Regions from separate parts of the Homo sapiens genome. Here regions 2, 3 and 4 are each reported to be linked to region 1. The links are microRNA targets in miRTarBase. Many come from high-throughput screens and were not tested one by one. Region 1 holds a microRNA gene; each other region holds the end of a gene's coding sequence.

The links. The annotated mature microRNA hsa-miR-3907 reads AGGUGCUCCAGGCUGGCUCACA and lies in region 1 at 2,416-2,437, shown strand. An mRNA with a match to its seed (bases 2 to 7 or 8) in the 3' UTR can be bound and repressed. Matches are read on the target gene's strand: a 7mer-m8 pairs with bases 2 to 8, a 7mer-A1 pairs with bases 2 to 7 and ends in A, and an 8mer does both.
Region 2: miRTarBase lists SLC30A5 as a target of hsa-miR-3907. Seed matches in the 3' UTR shown: 8mer at 2,154-2,161 and 7mer-A1 at 2,293-2,299.
Region 3: the mRNA of FMN1 is a reported target of hsa-miR-3907. Seed matches in the 3' UTR shown: 7mer-m8 at 1,775-1,781, 7mer-A1 at 2,462-2,468, 7mer-A1 at 4,099-4,105 and 7mer-A1 at 4,606-4,612.
Region 4: the mRNA of BMS1 is a reported target of hsa-miR-3907. Seed matches in the 3' UTR shown: 7mer-A1 at 2,634-2,640.

The regions. Positions count from the first base shown.
Region 1 is chr7:151,431,071-151,435,962 of GRCh38, reverse strand. MIR3907 (microRNA 3907) reads left to right here and starts at 2,324; the gene lies at 2,324-2,474. The region is part of intron 3 of CRYGN (crystallin gamma N); the gene reads left to right. LOC124901780 reads left to right here. Exons shown (of 1, transcript XM_047421163.1): 1 at 1-3,671. The coding sequence starts at 2,506. The coding sequence ends at 3,411. RefSeq lists enhancers at 2,685-2,774, 3,045-3,144.
Region 2 is chr5:69,128,477-69,133,368 of GRCh38, forward strand. It overlaps SLC30A5 (solute carrier family 30 member 5), which reads left to right. Exons shown (of 16, transcript NM_022902.5): 16 at 971-2,593. The coding sequence ends at 1,141. Among named protein-coding and RNA genes, the nearest start is that of SNORA50D, 30 kb to the right of the region's middle.
Region 3 is chr15:32,770,349-32,775,240 of GRCh38, reverse strand. FMN1 (formin 1) reads left to right here. Exons shown (of 21, transcript NM_001277313.2): 21 at 887-4,892. The coding sequence ends at 931. Among named protein-coding and RNA genes, the nearest start is that of GREM1-AS1, 54 kb to the right of the region's middle. RefSeq lists an enhancer at 474-1,673.
Region 4 is chr10:42,829,746-42,834,637 of GRCh38, forward strand. BMS1 (BMS1 ribosome biogenesis factor) reads left to right here. Exons shown (of 23, transcript NM_014753.4): 22 at 516-677; 23 at 1,121-4,892. The coding sequence ends at 1,351. It also overlaps the pseudogene RNU6-885P. Among named protein-coding and RNA genes, the nearest start is that of LINC02623, 39 kb to the right of the region's middle.

The DNA of each region.
Region 1 (4,892 bases):
CTCAGAGAGGGACTCTGGGCCCCAGAGGCACCCTGAGACCTTCCCTCTAGGGCCTCAGTCCAGGAGCAGAGGTAGGAGAGTACCTTGAAAGTTGCACGGTTCTCTGCGATTGATCTGATACAAGGGGCCGCCTTTGGTTTTCTTGAACCGGGGGACACCTGCTTACCAAGGGGTCCTCCAGGGCCTTATGGGCTGGAAAAGCCACAGTGGGCTCACTTGCTCTGAGAAGGGTGGACCAGCCCACCCTGCCCCCGCGCCTACCCCGCAGAGCTGACCCCTGAACCGGGCCTCTCTGCAAACCCCCACCACCCTGGCCTCTGGGAGGAGATGGACTTCGGGGTGGCTCACTCCTGGACAGAAAGTAGCTGGGGGAATTTTGCCCAGGCCCAGATGGGTTTGTCTGCCCCACACTTGGGTTTCCTCCTGGTCAACCAAGGGCAGCCTGTGTGCCCCCTCCTGCCCTCCCGCACACTCCCCTTTTGCAACTATCCTCTGAGCACCTTCAAGTTGGCCATGTATTTTCATTGTCCAGCCCACACCTCTAGGTCAGGTAGATATTATCGCCCCCGTTCTACAAAGGGCAAGCTGAGACTCAGAAGGCTGACTGCCCGGCCGCCCCGTGGGAGTGGCACAGCTGAGACTGCAGCCAAGCCTGTGTCTGTCCCTGTTCCAGAGCTAGCCGCTTTCCCAGGCCTCAGTCCCCTCCCCTCAGGCCAAGAGCCCCTCACACAGGTTCCAGCTGGCTGTGCATGGTTCTGGCGCCTATCGAAGCAATTGAGGAACAATTTGCCGTCTATACTACAGAGGTTCAAGGCCAGGGAGCTTCGGAGGGGATGCAGGGGGCAGAGGGACTGCAGGGAGACAGAGACTGGGCCGAGGCAGAGCTGGGCACAGGTGGTACCCCATGTCCATGGGCTCCAACCGCACAGCGAAAATATCCCCCCACAATTGTGTCTATGCTGAATATGTACATTATTCCCTGAAAGATACTGTACAACTATTTACATAGCGTTTATGTTGGATTAGGTATCATAAGTAATCTGGAGATGATTTCGAGTCCAGTAAGTCCTCACTTAACATTGTGGATAGGTTCTTGGAAACTGTGACTTTAAGTGAAACAATGTATGGCAGGTCCTCAAATATGTCATCTTGTTCAATGTGGATTCATTATAAAATTGATGAGGGGAGAAATGGCTTTGTTATATATCATGTGCTTAAAGCCACGGTTCCCAAGAACTTACTGACGGTGTTAAGTGAGGACTTACTATATATGGGAGGATACACATGGGTTATATGCAAATACAGTGCCATTTTATATCAGGAACTTGAGCATCCTCGGATTTTGATATCCAAGGGAGGTCCTGGAACCAGTTCCCAGGGATAGGGAGGGACTGTGTACATCCCACCTTTCCCCGGTGGCCTGATGTTGGCCCCCTTCCTGCTGTTTCTGTCACTCTAGCTGGCTCCAGGATTCCGTTTTACGAAATTGCATTTTGCCCTAAATTGGTGGCACCTGGAGCCCAGGGGTGGCATTCCAAAACAAGAATTTGCCCTGGAAAACTTGCTGGCTAAATTGTGTCTTGTAAGGCCCAAGTCATGCCTTTGCGTGGAGGATGTCCTGAGGCCCTAGACACAATCCCCCCGGCCCACCCCCAACGCTCAGGGGCTTGTTGAGAACGAAGGTGGGGAAGGTGGAGGCTAACATTTCTCTGACTGAGGGGCACACAATCCCCACTGTCCCTGAGAGGAGCCAGCCATCGGGACCCCAGGTGGGGGACCCAGGAGCTCAGCCTTTGCCGCCTAAGACTCTTACTCTTACACAAATGTAAGCCCTTGTCAAGGAGGTAACGCCCCCAGGTCCCCTCGATCCGGAGGGGACACTGCTAGGAGGCCTTTCCTGGGGTCGGGGGAGTGGGCAAGGCAGGGTCCCTCCACCACCTCCCACTGCCAAGACTCCTTCCCTCTGGGTCCCACATCAGCCCAGGCATGACCCATCCCCTCAGACCCGTGTCCTGGTGGGCTCTCGGAGGGAAATGCACTGGCGTTCTGCCTCCACCTACCCTCACCTGGGGAAGGGCACGGTGCTGATGTGGGCAGGACAGGCCCCTGCCCTTTCCTCTGTCTGCCTCCTCCCAGTAGCCACAGCCAGGACAGGGGACAGCAGGATGGGTGGTTCCCCGCCCCCTCCTTTTGGGGGTGTCCATGTGAGAACCCTCATGTGGCCCAGGACATGGCTTGGGGCATTTCTTGCCCACCACAGGGTAGGAAAGGACCAGCTGACTCTCTGAGGTGCCTCTGAGGCCCCAGCTGTGGCACAGGTGTGGGGTTGGAAAGCTGTAGGTGTGGAGGGGCATGGATACGGGGGCCATGAGGGTGGGGTCCAGGCTGGACCAGGCCTGCCCTGAGTCCCCCAGCAGGTGCTCCAGGCTGGCTCACACCCTCTGCCTCTCTCTCTTCCTTCCTGGCCCCAACCCTTGAGGCAGCAGACTGTGCCAGGCACCAGGCATGACAAGCCTCACTCGTCTCAGAGATGGTGAGGGAAGGACAGGGTTGGGCCAGCCCCTGCTCCGAGCTGTCCTGAGGTGTCTTCCTTGGACCACATGCCCCTTTCCAGGCAAAGGCCACTATCCTGGACCTCCAGTCCCTTCCTCCTGGTCCCCCGTTCCCTCCCCACCGCACCTTCCTGCTTTTCTGGGCCGGGCCCACAGCTTCCTGGGTGATGAAGAGCTGTGTTCTCTCCTGCCCCCACCAGCCCGAGGTCCTCCAGGCTCTGTAAAGACTTGTCCTGACTGTTTCTGCTCTCTGGGTTGTTGGTGGCTGCCCCAGTGGTGTGCAGAAGGGGAGGAGGACAGGAAGGGGCCCTGCTTGGGACTCCCCAACCCTCCTCTGTGCCCTGCAGGCTCCTCCATGCAACTGCACCCCCACAGCCCATTTCCTCTGCAGGGGAGGCCCCGTGAGGGCAGGAGGGGGCAGGAACCGTGTTGTGTGACCATGGCACCTCTGGTACCTGACACAGTGTTGGGCACACATGTGGGAACCTGCTGGCATTCACTGAATGAACGGTGCCCTCTGTGCCAGGCCCCCCACCAGGTGCTGGGGGTACTGTCTGTGCAAGGTGGTCCTTATCAGGGAACAGGAGTGTGTGGGGCGTGCAGTGATGGCGGGAGTGCATCCTTGCCAAGGATGGCTGAAATGCAGTGGCGCAATCTCGGCTCACTGCAACCTCCGCCTCCCTGGTTCAAGCAATTATCTTGCCTCAGTCTCCCAAGTAGCTGGGATTACAGGTGCCCACCACCACACCCAGCTAATTTTTGTATTTTTAGTAGAGACGGGGTTTCACCACGTTGGCCGGGCTGCTCTCAAACTCCTGACTACAAGAGATCTGCCTGCCTCGGCCTCCCAAAATTCTGAGATTACAGGCGTGAGCCCCCATGCCCGGCCAGGACTGGTCAGTTTTAAAATGTGGACATTACTGGGCCTGTCCCCACACATGTCACACCCCAGCATGGACCCCACAGGGCACTGGGGAAGGCACCGTGGGTGCCTTCGTGTAGCCCAGAGTGAAGGGGCCGCTCGACCGGGAGGGGTTGCTGGGTGGCCAGGCTGTGCAGGCTTTTCTCTCCGGAGTCCCGGGGGACTTCCTGGCAGCCCCTGATCCCCACTCCCCTGGCCTCCAGGTGGGTCCTGTATGAGGAGCCCAACTACCACGGCCGCATGTACGTGGTGGAGAGTGGCGACTTCCGCAGCTTCTCGGACTGGGAGGCCCACAGCGCACGAGTGCAGTCGCTCCACAAGGTGGTCAACTTCTTCCAGCCGAGCCCTCCCACCGGGATGGCCGGGCGCAGCTCTGGGGACAGGGGCAACCCCTTGCGGTCCCACCCAGACCTCGGGACCTTGGGCGATAAAAGTCCTCAAAGCCAACGGGCGGCTTCTGAGTGCTCTCTCGGCAGTGGGCATCCCAGCCCTGGGAGGAGCTGGATGATCCAGGGCGCTTTCCCGGACTCCCAGGGACCCCCTGGGCCAGGGAGGGGAGAGTGGTGGGGAGAGGTGGTGAGAAGCAATGGGGATGGGGCAGGGCCGGAACCCAGGCCGGTTCAGGACTCCCCAGGCTCGCTTGGGGCTCTGCCTCTCTGTGACTCGGCAAGGTGAGGCTGCCAGGCCATGTGGCCAAAGGCCTGACCCAGGGTCTCTGTGTCTGATCTCTGGGTTTTATCCTCATGGCTAATCTTGGCCTCGGAGTTTCTAAGGGAGACCCCTCTGGAAGGATGGTTTCGACCCAGGGCAGACCCCTCTCCTGCGAGAGAGAAAACAGTTAGTGGTGGTGAGTGTCAGGGTGGGGGCTTAGCTTGAACAGGTGGGCTCTGTGGGAATGGAGGGGCTTTCGGGGAGAAAGGGGCATGGGGCGTGTCTGCTGCAGCCATAGCCCCTGGAGCAGTAGGGCTGGCAGACCCAGAACCGGCGGCTCGCGTCTTCAGCTGGTGCAGCACCAAGCGCTCGCCTGTAGAATTCCTCCATTCCTGGGCCCTCTCCAGGACACTGGGTCCTCCTGTTGGGGTGGGCTTGAATCTAGAGGGGACACCCCACCCTTGAGGGGCAGAGGGGAGGGAGAAGTCTGTCCTGGAAGGAGATACTCGGCCCAGGCAGTGGGATTCCTGGGCATAAGAGGTCCACGTCCCCAAAAGCATCCCCCCACTCCCTCCCCACCCACGCCTATGCTTCCAACTCACTGGGGAGAGAGGAAAGGTCCCACGAGGGGAACTCTGGTCCCTGGGGGTGGCCCAGGTAACTCCCTGCTGCCGGCAGCCCTCCAGCAGAGTCCTGAATGGAGCCTGCCTGTGAGGAAACCATAGCCCACCCCAGAAGGAGGCAACAGATGGAGTGCTCTGGGCTTC
Region 2 (4,892 bases), not on the chromosome of region 1:
AGTCTCAAACTCCTGACCTCAGGTGATCCGCCTGCCTCGACCTCCCAAAGTGCTGGGTTTATAGGCAAGCCATCATGCCCGGCCTAATCTTCCAAATCTGTAACGGTAATATAGCTTACTTTTTACATCTAGATTTGTTTTATATCTAAAAATTGCTAAAATAAATGAAGTTTTGTGTTTAGAGGATAAGCTTTAATTAATATAAAAAAATTCATTTATGAGTTTGATTAATCTTGGTTTCCAGTAGATTATCAAAAAATAAGTTATTATAAATATATTCCTAAATTAGTAATAATCAACTTGGCAGGGTATATGCTATGTTTGGAGATAGAGGTCAGAATAGTTACTAAAGCCCTGTTCTAGATGTGCCAAATTGGAAACAATGGCTGTTTTCCTTTTCTACTGTGAATGTCAAATCAGTAATTTACTGACCTAAAAGAGTCTAATATTTTAACTAACTAAATGATGAATATTACTTCGAAGATTTATCTTGGACTACTGTAACTGTTTGTTTGTTTGTTTACTCATTCATTTTAGAGACAAGATCTCACTATGTTGCCCAGGCTGGTCTCAAACTCCTGGGCTCAAGCGATCCTCCTGCCTCAGCCTCCCTGGGCCACTGTGCCTGGCCTGTAACTATTTTAAAAATGTGACACAGGTTTAATATTCCTTATCTAAAATGCTTGGAACCAGAAGTGTTTTCGATTTGCGATTTTATTTTTTTTAATACTCGCATTACGCTTACCAGTTGAGCATCCCTAATCTGAAAATCCAAATCCAAAATGCTCCAATGAGCATTTCCTTTTAACACCATCTTGGCACTCAAAAAGTTTCAGATTTTAGAGCGTCTCAGATTTCGTATTTTCAGATTAAAGATACTCAACCCGTATCAACTATGTACAGCATATTAAGACGTGTGTACTAAATGCATTACTCTAAATGCTTCAAAATATCTGGATTTTTATAACAGGTTACAGGAATACTTAAAGATGCTGGAGTAAACAATTTAACAATTCAAGTGGAAAAGGAGGCATACTTTCAACATATGTCTGGCCTAAGTACTGGATTTCATGATGTTCTGGCTATGACAAAACAAATGGAATCCATGAAATACTGCAAAGATGGTACTTACATCATGTGAGATAACTCAAGAATTACCCCTGGAGAATAAACAATGAAGATTAAATGACTCAGTATTTGTAATATTGCCAGAAGGATAAAAATTACACATTAACTGTACAGAAACAGAGTTCCCTACTACTGGATCAAGGAATCTTTCTTGAAGGAAATTTAAATACAGAATGAAACATTAATGGTAAAAGTGGAGTAATTATTTAAATTATGTGTATAAAAGGAATCAAATTTTGAGTAAACATGATGTATTACATCATCTTCAAAAATAGATATGATGGATTCTAGTGAAGACCAAAATTACTTCTGTTTACTTTCTATCAGGAAGCATCTCCATTGTAAATATGTATTTACATGTTTATTACAAAGACCCAAATGAAAAATTTTTAGTCCATTTTTTGCATAGCCTAAAGATAAAATAGGAATAAAAGTTCTATATTTATGGATTTTCTGTATATAAAACTGGTTTCTAATTATAACTTAAGTCCATTAAGTAAAATCTGTATTGCCACTTTAAATGTAAACTAAATTATTTGGGAGAAACTTCAACCACTGATATGAGATAAGCAATGAGAATAGGGAAGTGTATAACATCACAGTTTTTGATGTATTACAAAAATCAACCACTCTATAAAATAAATTTTTTTTACTTTTGGTAATATTTGCAAATGAATAATTAATTTATTAGGGTAAAGAACTTATACTAAGTTGTGTCCATGTTATTCATTTACTTACCATGTTCCTTTAAAGTAGAATATTTCCTTTCTTGTTATATATTTGACATTCCAAGCTGCTTATCAAGCTGGTATCCAAGCAGTGGTAAGCTTTCATCCTTTCTTAGCTCCATAACGTTGTGAAACAGCCAGTTAAGAGAATCGTAAATAATTGTCAACTCACAGTTGAATTCTCTGCCTATGTAGGTAACTTTTTTCTAATTTCTGGAACATATAGATATATAAGAAATATCAAAGAATAGGTAGTTATTTCAAAGTTTAATAAGTAAAACTTGTTCATAAACATTTGAGCACCATGAAATCAAAATACCCTATAACTACTTTCTATAGTCATATCTAATTTATATTTTTTTCATTTCCAGTTGTAACTAGATATGTAGTAAAGTCTGAAAAGACTTTACCATAGACAATAACATGCAGTTTTATCAGCACCAAAGAATGTTGTCCAAAAGAAACTTTTTAATACCTGTCTTTCTATTTATAACATCTGAATATTTTCATTCTTATATTAAGAATTTTGATAAGTAGATTGAATTTAGTATGAGTACTATTTTCTTATATATACCACAATGGCAAACATGTATTATAAATCATATTTTTGTCTTACCAATTTTAATATATGAGGGGTTTTAGAAATTTGTTGTAAGTTATTTTTATATTCCTTGTCTTTTGCATATTTTTTGGCCAAAATCTTCAATACATATTAAAATTTTTGAGTGGTGGGAAAATAATTGCATATTGATGTTTTAATGCAATTTTTATACATTAAAAAATTAAGTAGATAGGTGCAATAAATATTACACCAAAGTTAAAATTGTCATTTCCCTTAGAAGACATATAAACAGCAAAAAAATTAATGTGATTGTGAGATATTAGAGTGAGAGAGAGCAGGGGCTGAAGGTTGGGGAGGTACAATTATAAAGTATGGAAACTCTAATATTGAAAGCACCAGGGTACTGTATTTCAGCTCATGCAAATCATGCAACTAGGCCAGGTGCAGTGTCTCTTGCCTGAAATCCTGGCACTTTGGGAGGCTAAAGCAAAAGGATAGCTTGAGCCCAGGAGTTTGAGAACAGCCTGAGCAACATAGCAAGATTCCATCTCTACAAAAATTTTTAAAAATTAGCTGGGGCATGGTGGCACATACCTCTTGGGAGGCTGAGGCAGGAGGATTGCTTGAACCTAGGAGGCCAAGGCTGCAGTGAGCCATGATGGCACCACTGCTCTCCAGCCTGGGTGACACAGAAAGATTTTATCTCAAAAAAAAAAAAAAAATTCATGCAACTTTAGGCAAATCAGCCTTTCTGAGGTATCTTTTTTTTTTCCTCATATATAAACTATATAAAACCTGCTCAAATTTACAGCACAGGATATGGGAACAAAAGGTATAATGTATGTGAAAATGCAGTGGAAGTTGAAAAAGGCTAAATAGGCCGGGTGCGGTGGCTCACGCCTGTAATCCCAGCACTTTGGGAGGCCGAGGTGGGCGGATCACGAGGTCAGGAGATCGAGACCATCCTGGCTAACATGGTGAAACCCTGTCTCTACTAAAAATGCAAAAAATTAGCCAGATGTGGTGGCAGGCGCCTGTAGTCCCAGCTACTCGGCAGGCTAAGGCAGGAGAATGGCGTTAACCTGGGAGGCGGAGCTGGCAGGCAGCCGAGATAGCACCACTGCACTCTAGCCTGGGTGACAGAGCAAGACTCCATCTCAAAAACAAAAAAGAAAAAGGCTAAATACGAAGAATTGTTACTTTTTAAGCCTGACTTCAAAGGTAGCCGTCATTAACTTGTCTCTTTTTTTCTATAAATTAGCATCTCAAGAGATTAATTAGATGTTTAACATATAAATAAGTTAAAAATAATGCCCAAAATAGAAGCCTGTTTTGAGGGAGGGGAGTTTGGATTTTTTTTTCAGAGACAAGGTCTCACTCTGTTGCCCAGGCTGGAGTGCAATGACATGATCATTGCTCACTGCAGCCTTGAACTCCTGAGCTCAAGCAATCCTCCCACCTCAGCCTCTCCAGTAGGTAGGACTGCAGGTGCACATTACCATGCCCAGCTAATTTATTGTTTGTAGAGACAGGGTCTCACCATGTTGCCCATGCAAGTCTCGGAACTCCTGGGCTCAAGTGATCCTCCCACCTCTTCTTCCCAAAGTATGAGGATTATAGCCATCCTGGCTAACACGGTGAAACCCCATCTCTACTAAAAATACAAAAAATTAGCGGGGCGTGGTGGCGGGCGCCTGTAGTCCCAGCTCCTCGGGAGGCTGAGGCAGGAGAATGGTGTGAACCCGGGAGGCGGAGGTTGCAGTGAGCCGAGATCGTGCCACTGCACTCCAGCCTGGGTGACAGAGTGAGACTCCGTCTCAAAAAAAAAAAAAAAAGAAAGAAAATAATACAATCATTTATGGCTTTTTGTGTTTTATTTATGTTTTTATTTATTAGTTTTTAGAGTCTCGCTCTGTCGCCAGGCTTGAGTGCAGTGGTGCAATCTGGCTCACTGTAACCTCCACCTCCTGGGTTCAAACGATTCTCCTGCCTCAGCCTCCTGAGTAGCTGGGACTACAGGTGCACGCCACTACGCCCAGCTAATTTTTGTATTTTTTTTTTAGTAGAGACAGAGTTTCACCATGTTGGCCAGGATGGTCTCGACCTCGACCTTGTGATCCATCCGCCCACCTCGGCCTCCCAAAGTGTGGGATTACAGGCATCAGCCACCGTGCCCGGCCTGTGTTTTATTTTTAATTATAATTCTTTTCTTCTGTTATAGCAATTTATGGCGTTTTAAACATTCAGTAAATTAACTCATAACAAATACTGAAGGCCTTTATACTAAATACACTGCACTAGGAGCTAGGGATAAAGTCCTCAGTAATACAAAGTCCTGCCCTAATGGAGCTTACTTCTAATGTAGAAGACAAGACCAGTATGTAATAAAATGTAGTAAGTGCTGTGAAGAAAAGCAATAACTTACTGAACTTTTGCCATGTTCCAGATGGACACTGTTCTAAACAATAAATATG
Region 3 (4,892 bases), not on the chromosome of region 1:
TTTAGGATGGGTGTCGAAAAATCATCAACTTAAGTTTATATCTAGGCCAATTTAGTAATTCACTGCAACATCATATCTCATAGCTCATAAGCAGCTAAGGATCCATTCTCAAAGGCTTCTCTCTGCATCTGCTCATTCCAAAAGAGTATACTTCTCCCTTTTCCATTTTAGCCTTCTATTTACCCTCCTCCCAGAGCAGGCACACCATCCTTACCATACTGATATGTGTGCTTCCCTAGTGTCACAGATACCATGGGGGTCCATGTTTCTGTGTAGTGTGCTCCTGTGTATTCTTACGTCTTCCCAGCAGATGTCCATGTCCTTCCCTTTAGAAGGCAGTCTCTGAGGAGGAAGCTCGGAGAATGAAGAGCATAACATCCATGGCAAATCGGGAACTTCTGCCATTCTGCAGAGACTAAATCTGGTCATCTCCCATTTTGCATGGCTTTTGTTGAGTTCTGCCAAGTTGATCATTGGAAATAGTAATTTTTTTTTTCATATCTTCTTGGGCATTCTCTAATTCCATCAATGAGCCAAAGGTAGGGACGGAAGGGGTCCTTGAGTAACACTACAAAGTTAGGGTCTTTGTCACAAAAGAAGAGAACAGAAAAGACCACCCTGGCATGGTAAAGGCCCGTGTTTTAGATGGATGTAGTTGGTAGATTGGCTGGTTATTGATTTCTTGTTTGTTTTTCTGGGGAGTAAGGGTGATAGGTAGGGAGGGGCAGATAACTAAGAGCTTAGGGAAAGCAGTAGAGGTACTCTCATTTCTAGGCCATTTGGCACAATTCCGGAAACTCAGCATTCTAGACCAAAATTTGAGAAATGTATCAAAACTTGAGAAAGATGAAAGAAAATGATACATTCATTTTTTTTTCCTTAACAGAAAGAAAGACTGCGTCAGAAGGAAGCCAGTGTGACCACTAACTAAGATGAAGACACATGGAAATGATGGCACTGGAGGTGGAGGACCTTGCACGCATACTCTTTGTGACCACAGGGTTGCAGGACGTTCTTGAAAGATGTGTCACTAAATGTTTGTTTTTGCTCATCTCTTTCTGAGGTCATCTGCAGAGAGTGCCCCATGCCTTCTTTAAGAAGTCCCTCATTAAGCCGCAGGAACAATGGAAAACTATTTAAGGGAACATTGCAGAAATATTTGATGACTGTTTCTTGTGGAAGCCCAAAGTCCACTCTAAGAGCAGAAGAAATACCAAAATGTTTCCAAAATTTTTTTAAAAGCTGAGATTTCCAGCTTTATAACCAAAGCTTGATATATGTCACATTGTCACAGAAGAGAGAAAAGATCATTGAGGACAGTTGCCTTGGGAGAGTTCAAGTCTTTGTCGTTACACACTGCTGTTTTGATTATTGGTCTTAGTTTTGATCCTGTTGCAGCAAAATCCTGCAGCATCTTTCTCTCCAATAATGTTGCAACTCACCAAAACTATTCTTGAAGAGGTCCAAGAACATGTATTATCCAGACTAAAAAAATGATTTTTTGTTGTTATGGTTTACGTGATGAAAAGGAGAAAAAACAGAATCATACCTGGGTGGAGAGAGGGAGACAAATAGCCATAAACTTCATCCTGGAGAACAAGTTACCATGCAAGGAGTTGACATCAGTTGTTAAGTGAGGCCCATTCTTGTTTTTACATCGGTCCTTTGTGGTTTTTCTGGGCCAGCAGAGATTCTGCACCCCAACTCCCAGGAGAAAATGTAATACCTGAGCAAGCACAGCCTTGGGTGTGCTTGGACAAGAGACCCAGCGGCAGAGCACCTTTTACATTTTGGACCGTTCATGAATGGGCAATGTTGTGTTGATACGCAGCCGAGTTCTACGTTATGTGCTGTGACTGTGCAGCTGGACGACCCCCATCCCCAGGAGGCAGTTTCCAGACAGGAGAGCAAATGCAACTCACAGCACCTGCTCATGACCTTGGCTGATAGGCATGTGAAGTAGGATGAAGCAGGACTCTTTAATGTCAAAAAAACTGAAGGGCAGAAAAAAGGTTCCTTACATCAAAATGAAAGTAATTACATTAATAGAAAACTTCCAAGTGGAATATTGTTCACAGGCAGCTCTTTCTGACCCTGGCTCTTGAGTCACATAAGGAAACCACCTTTGACCTCTCTGACACTTTTGTCTTTAAGCCACGTCTCTGAAATCTTGTGAGGGGTGAAGAAAGAGGACTGGAGATGAATGGACAATATGATCAAAGACTCATTTTTAGGCCTTGAAGAGGCCGAGCTTTCTCCCCCCAATTGGTGGAGGACAGTCCAGAGATGAGCAGAAATCTTAAATTCCTTCCTGATCCAGCCTCCACATGTGGCCTGCCCCTTGCCCCAGCATCTTTCCAGAACCCCTGGACTTGCCAGGTGCCTGAGCATCTTCCCAGGATATGCCTGCCAGCCAGCAGCCCCTCAGGAATGCTTCTATAATAGATCCAGTAATGAAAGCAGCACCATATCCTAATCTAATGTCAGCTTCGAGAATGAAGACTGCAGTCAGGATCAAATCAAGTCACAGAAGCCATATTCATGCAGGTGCTAACCGCCTTTTCTACTGGTGCAACTGAAAGGAATATGGTAACATGGTTGGATTTTTAAAATTCACAATGAAGGAACGAGACAAGCAAAACAGAAAAGCCGAGAAGGAACATGCATGACTAAAAAGGCTTGAAGTTGCTTGTGAGCAAGAAGCTTTTTATGCTGCTTTCTTACATAGTTTCTCTTCATTTTCACTTAACTCTGAAGACAACCAAAAGAACGGATCAATTAAAAACTGATTCCACTTATAACCATTGTATGCTCCTTCTAGTGTTATCATGCACAAGAAAAGTGCCAGTTTTACCCATGCCATATAATTCAGCTCTTTTGAGTTATGTGGGGCCAGCAGAAGTCTCAATCCTTATAGGCTTGATGGTGAGAGCAGCGGGAGGTTTGAGGTGTACTCATTGCAGTCCACTTTGGTCTGTAAGTAGGATGCTTACGAGAAATCAGTGAAGGTAAGCAGGGCTGCCACTGTGGCCACGTAACCCTTCAGGAACCAGTGCTGAAGAATAATGAGTGAGAACACTTAATTTGAGAGTTAGACAAATACAGCCCACTTTGGATTTCATCCTAGTGAACAGACTAAAACTTTGCAGTAAAATACCTATTTCTACAAAGCAAGGTTTGCCTGCCTCGGTTGGGGAAACCTAGTGGTTTTGTCACACTAGTCGATGTATGATGTTAGTGTTGTAAGACACCATGGCAGAATCTTCATTATTCTCACCTATTCTGAACCCTGCATCATGTATCTGGGATGCCCCCTCCCAAGTCCACCAATGTACCACGTTGCTGACACAGCCTTCATTTTTAACTCAAATTGATGCTCAGTAAAGGTCAATGACAATTTGTTCAAGGAAGTTCATCTAAAATAATCTGGAGGCCTTGAAAATGATCCCTCTAAAATGCTGTTGAGCTTGTGTTCAGTGTAGCAGGAGGATCTGAACTTTTCCTGGAGAGGAGGTGATCGGGATGCCATTTGGCAGCTTAAGCACATCCTGCCAGCAGGCTTTAAGTGGCTGTTCTAGGCATAGCCCTCCCTGAACTAGAAAGGAGAGTAACCAGTTTGCTATGCTGCATCTAACCAGACACACCTGACTTAGTAGTAACTCTAAGAACCCTTAACTTACAAACAACTTTGTCTCCTCTTAGACAATATTCATTAAATCTGAGGACACAGTTTGACAGTAGTTCAGATTCTTGCATGAGCAATTGACAGCATCAGAGCACACAATATCATAAGTTACATAAATTACACAAAGTACATCATAAATTACACTACAGACACGTTAGGTAAAAAGCATCAGGCCCGGGCCGGGCGTGGTGGCTCATGCCTATAATCCCAGCACTTTGGGAGGCCAAGCGGGGGCGGATCACGAGGTCAGGAGATTGAGACCATCCTGGCTAACACGGTGAAACCCCATCTCTACTAAAAATACAAAAAATTAGCCGGGCGTGGTGGTGGGCGCCTGTAGTCCCAGCTACTCGGGAGGCTGAGGCAGGAGAATGGCGTGAACCCAGGAGGTGGAGCTTGCAGCTAGCCGAGATAGCACCACTGCACTCCAGCCTGGGCGACAGTGAGACTCCGTTTCAAAAAAAAAAGCATCAGGCCCATGAAGTATCAAAAACCAGGTTAGGAGGTGTGCTGTATGGCTTTTATCTCAATAAGTGGCAGCTTACTGGGGAAAAAGAAATAAGAAAAAGTGTGGCCAAGCAGAAGTGGATGTTTATGATGACGGTGGGGGCCCAGAGGTCATAGGTGATGGTCCTACTGCCCAACAGTTGCCTTTTGAATCCTTATGTTGATGATGGTGTCTTTCTACACACTCACTGCAACTACTCAGGAATTATAAAGATTTTCTGAAATCTGAGAAGTGGAATAAGGAAACCCAGTGGAGCTATTACACTTTTAAATGTTCTAGCCAAAACAAATTGCCAGTATGGTTGAGGAATTGAATATCAGATGGCATGCAGTCTCCCCTCCCCTCCCCTATCAAGGACAGTAGAAGCTGCAAACCTCTTCTCAGCCTCCTTCAGGCACCTCCTGTTTTCATAAGCACCATGAAGAATGGTGTTTCCTAAATGAAAAGTTCAGATACTGCTGGTAAAGAAACTGGAAAAACTGAAGGAAGGAATAAAATATGTTGGTGGTATTAACACCTCCAGTAAGATAAGTCATTGGTACGGTTTTTCTAAGGGCCGCAGTGAGATGTAGCAGAAGAAATATGTTTATTTTGGGCAAAGATTTGCTTATTGGCCTGGGATTGCACATTTTCTCTATGATGTTTGCAACAGAGAAATTTTCATTTTAATGATACTCTTCCTTTCTTGAAAGTTACATG
Region 4 (4,892 bases), not on the chromosome of region 1:
CAGGAGGTGGAGGTTGCATGAGCCGAGATCACGGCACTGCTCTCTAGCCTGGGCGTCAAGGCAAGACTCCATCTCAAAAAAACAAAACAAAACAAAAAAAACATCCAGAGTGGTTGATAGTCAAGACAAAAAGCTAGATTATTTTTGTTAGTCTGGGAAATAAGCACCTCAGTGGCCCAAAGACAAGGCCTGAAATTTCCATGAAAAGAAACTGGGATCTATTCATCTGTTCTGTTGAGACCCCATAGTTCCATACCATAGAAATGGGCACAGTGGGTTTTGGGGGGAGAGTTGTAAGTGTAAGCTGTCTGTTCCTCTGTTTACTGAGAATTGTGGGTGTCCACTGAGGCAGTTCATATTTGGCAGATGATTGAGTCCTGATTTCTCAGGGCCGGCAGACTCTGGTGTTACTAATCTTGTGGAAAAGTCAACCCATTGAGAAGATTTTATGCAGAAGTTTTAAATGCACATTGATCATAATTTGAATATGTCACAGTCTTTGTTTTTCTTTTCAGCCAATCCTGAGGCAAAAGAAACATTTTAATTCACTGCACATTCCAAAAGCCTTGCAGAAGGCCCTGCCATTTAAGAACAAGCCCAAGACCCAAGCAAAGGCAGGCAAGGTGCCAAAGGACAGGCGGAGACCGGCCGTCATACGCGAGCCTCATGAAAGAAAGGTACTGTTGCCCATGCTGTACTGCACGCTGCGTTTAGATAGGAAAAGAACACTCTCAATAGCACACTTCCTGTTTCTACTGTAGTCTCAGTTATTCAGGGCACTGGAACTAAAGTCAGAGGAAGAGCCAGAGTCCATTTCCCTTTCTTTGCCTGGTCCTGCTCTGCCCTGTGCTTTTCATGGGGGATAACAGGTACATGGCTGGGGAACCCTTCTGTCTCGGTTAGCTGCACACAGTGTCCACAGAATGATGAACAGAGGTGGTAAAGGTAAAATGGGATCACACCTGTGTCTCCATGCCAACAATGACTTCCTAGCACAGGATGCATTTTCATGCAGTTAATATTCATTTGGATCGTGGGTTGCCTCTAGTCTTAGTGCTTAGGATGCGAGTGTGTGGTGTCTGAGAGCATTCTGATACTCACCGGCTTTTGTCCTTGTCAGATCCTTGCACTGCTGGATGCTCTGAGTACGGTGCATAGTCAGAAGATGAAGAAGGCCAAGGAGCAGCGGCACCTGCACAATAAAGAGCACTTCAGAGCCAAGCAGAAGGAGGAGGAGGAGAAGCTGAAGCGGCAGAAGGACCTCAGGAAGAAGCTCTTCAGAATTCAGGGGCAGAAGGAAAGAAGAAACCAGAAGTCCAGTTTGAAGGGGGCTGAGGGCCAATTGCAGTGAGCCTTTGGACTGGAGGGACTGTCCCTGGATCTGCGGAGGTAGACAGTTTCAAACATCACAGTTTGAATGCCTGTGAATGACAAGTCAGTGGGAAAGAGCTCAAGAGATGTCTCTACTCAAACTGTGCCTGCAGGAGGAGGAACAGAGAAGCCTGGGCTGCTGGGACTGGGTTCATTCTCATGACTTGGGGCTGTCGAGATTTAAAGTGATGTAAGCTGTGGTTATGTGGATTCTCTTACTTTCCTCTGCCTGCCTCAGTTTAATTATTTTGTCCTACAGAAATATCATTAAAATATTTTTTTGTTACTTTTGGCTTAGTAGTTTTCATTAGGGATGAATGCCTGACAATTCTTTGTGGATAATTATTTATACTACCACCTTCATGAGGAGTCTTCCAGAAGAGAAAGAAATATTCACTTGAACTCTGAGCTCCCATGGAAGATTTTAGAGAATAGTGTGTAGTGTTTTTGTTTTGTTTTTTGTTTGAGTGACACACAAACCTAGATGGTACAGCCTACTGTGCACCCAGGATCTATGGGCTCCTTTGATCACTGGCCCTTGTGGACATTTTCTATCTTATTTCATATGTTCTGCACATTAGTATAGTGACAAGGTAACAGTAAGTACTTTTTTAAAGCTTTAGACTTAGGAGATTATTGTCTCAGGTGCAGAGACCAAGGAAATCGTATGTATCAGTGAGATAGGCTTCCCGTATTATGCTCATGCGTTATACCTGCCTAGCTACATTGCCTTTTTTTAAATTAAACATTATGTTGAAGTAATCATACTATTACATAGGCGATGTATGTATTTTATGATTGTATGTTGATATAGTTATGGGGAATCTATTCCTATACGATGTAATCATAGATTCACATATAGTTGTATATTTTGCCCAATTTCTCTCAGTGGTAATGTTTCACACATATAACAATCAGGATGTTGACATCAATACAGCCCGCTGATTTTATTCACATTTCCCCAGCTTTACTTTCCCCAACGTATACTCCTCCATGTATGCATGGGTGTGTAGAAATATGGAACGCAGCTGGGCACAGTGACTCACGCCTGTAATCCCAGCACTTTGGGATGCTAAGGCAGGAGGATCACTTGAGCCCAGGAATTTGAGACCAACTTGGGCAACATGGCAAAACCTCATCGCTACAAAAAATAAAAAATTCGCCAGGTGTGGTGGGTGCACACCTGTAGTTCCAGCTGCTTGGGAGGCTGAGGTAGGAGGATCACTTGAGCTTGGGAGGTTGAGGCTGCAGTGAGCCATGATAGCACCACTGCACTCCAGCCTGGGCGACAGGGCAAGACCCTGTTTCAAAAAAAAAAAATTATACATATATGTATGTAGAACACTTCATGAATTTGTGTGTCATCTGTGCATGGGGCCCATGCTGACCTCTGTGTTGTGCCAGTTATAGTATGTGTGCTGCTGATATGAGTGCCACATTGCCTTTACAACATCATAGGGGCCAAAGAGGGTTGGCAGGATTATGAGCAGTTGGCCTAGTCTGAGAGGCTCTCTAAAAGCCTAAAGTCTGTAGGCAGGTGCTCAGCTTTGTATCTCCATAAGAAGGGAAGAGGATGTGAGGATCCTGTCAGGGCTAGGTCCACCTGGGAAGTGACAATTGGAACACTCCCAGACCTCTCTGGGCAACTCTGGGTGTACATTTTCCTCTGTTCCTCAAGAGCTATTATGAATTTCATCATCCATTATGCTGATAGGCCTGGGGACTGACACATAGTAAGCCCATAACAATTATAATTTAAAACTAATTTGTTATATAGCATAATTGATATATTTTAAAATGCAAAACTATAATTCAACTAAAATATACAAGGCACTCAAGTCATACCATGTTTTAAGTAGCTTACAAGGTGATCAGCAAGTGTCTTATACAACAAGCAAATTTGTTCAAAGAGAAGCATTGCAAATAAGTATTTATAATTGTATAGTTTTATATTTTAGCCAGAAGAGTGGAATCCTTTAGCAATGGGGGAAATAAAAGAATGTTTAATTACAGTTGCAGATAATTGCCTTTTCCAAAGACAATGTATGTAGGCAGAACTCATACCTGTTAATATTAAAAATCTTGGTTTATCATATTTGGAGAACAAGGGAAATAAAAAGTTTGCATATTAAGATTATTTAAACTAAAGTTAAGGAATCTCTAATGTCTGAAAGAAACAATAAATAGCATTTTTCATGTAGAATTTTTATTGGTGAAGGTTCCACCTGGCCAGGTTAGTAAAATACAGTCACACATCAGTTAAGGATGGGGATATATTCTGAGAAATGTATCATTAGGCAATTTTGTCATTGTGTAAACATCATAGAGTGACACACAAACCTAGATGGTACAGCCTACTGTGCACCTGGGCTCTATGGTATGGCCTGTTGCTCCTAGGCTACAAACCTGGGCAGCATGTGACTGTACTGACTACTGTAGGCAGTTGTAACACAGTGGTAAACATTTGTGTATCGAAACATAGAAAAGGCGTAGCAAAAATACAGTATTGTGGAACCACTGCCATATACGTGGTCCATCCTTGACTGAACATCATGCGGCATGTGGCTGTATGTATACACATAGTTTTTGCTGTGAGTTTGCATCCATCTCATAGGAAGACATATATCAAAATAAGGACCAGACTGGAGAGTGTGTAAATTACTTTTCAATACTAATGGCTTATTAATTTGATATTGTCAGCAAGTATGTTGCAAAAACAAATTCCACCAGAATGTGAGTTCCATGAGAGCAGGAACTGGGTTGTTCACCTTGTTGGCACTTGGAGTAGAGCCACTGAGCTTCGTGCTGCATAAAATTGCTTGGAAGAAAGAAGGGAGGGCATTCCAGGTAACTGAAGCATTGCTATGCAAAGTAAGCATTTGCCCTCTGAAATATTTTAACAATGTTTATAGAAACCTTTCTCAATTGTATTAAACTTTGTAAATTGTAAAAATTATTCTGTTATACCTTTTCTATTTACTAGGCACAGGCAGCCATAGGTGCTAGGTATGTTTTGAAAACATATTGAACCTACAGTGTACATATCATTCCATGCCATTAAATATTCTTATTTAATCATAGATGTGTTCAGGTGTGTTTGGTTTCCTATTTGTGGATGTACTAGATTGTTTTCTTTTTTTAACAAAACCTGTGAACTTGCTTTAAGTATTATCATTTGGTGACATGCCCGCCATTTCAGAAATAAATGTTTGAGCAAAGAGGAAAGCCACCGGGTCTGATTCAGCTCTCTGGAGGCTCCAGAGCTTACCTCGCTGATGGGAAAAAGAGCATCGATTTAATTGCCCTTGGTACCGACTTCTAGTATCTAGTATTTTGCCAGACTCAGGTATTTCTTAAAGCCATTATTCAGAGTCTTCAGCAAGGACATTGTATTTTACTTGTGTCTCCTTAGTTTTACCTAGTTTATTTCATGGTTTTAAAGTATTGTACATTTTTATAATCCTTTAACAAGACAAAAGGTTGAGATGTTGGACATTTAAATGCCAAAGGTGTTTTATTAT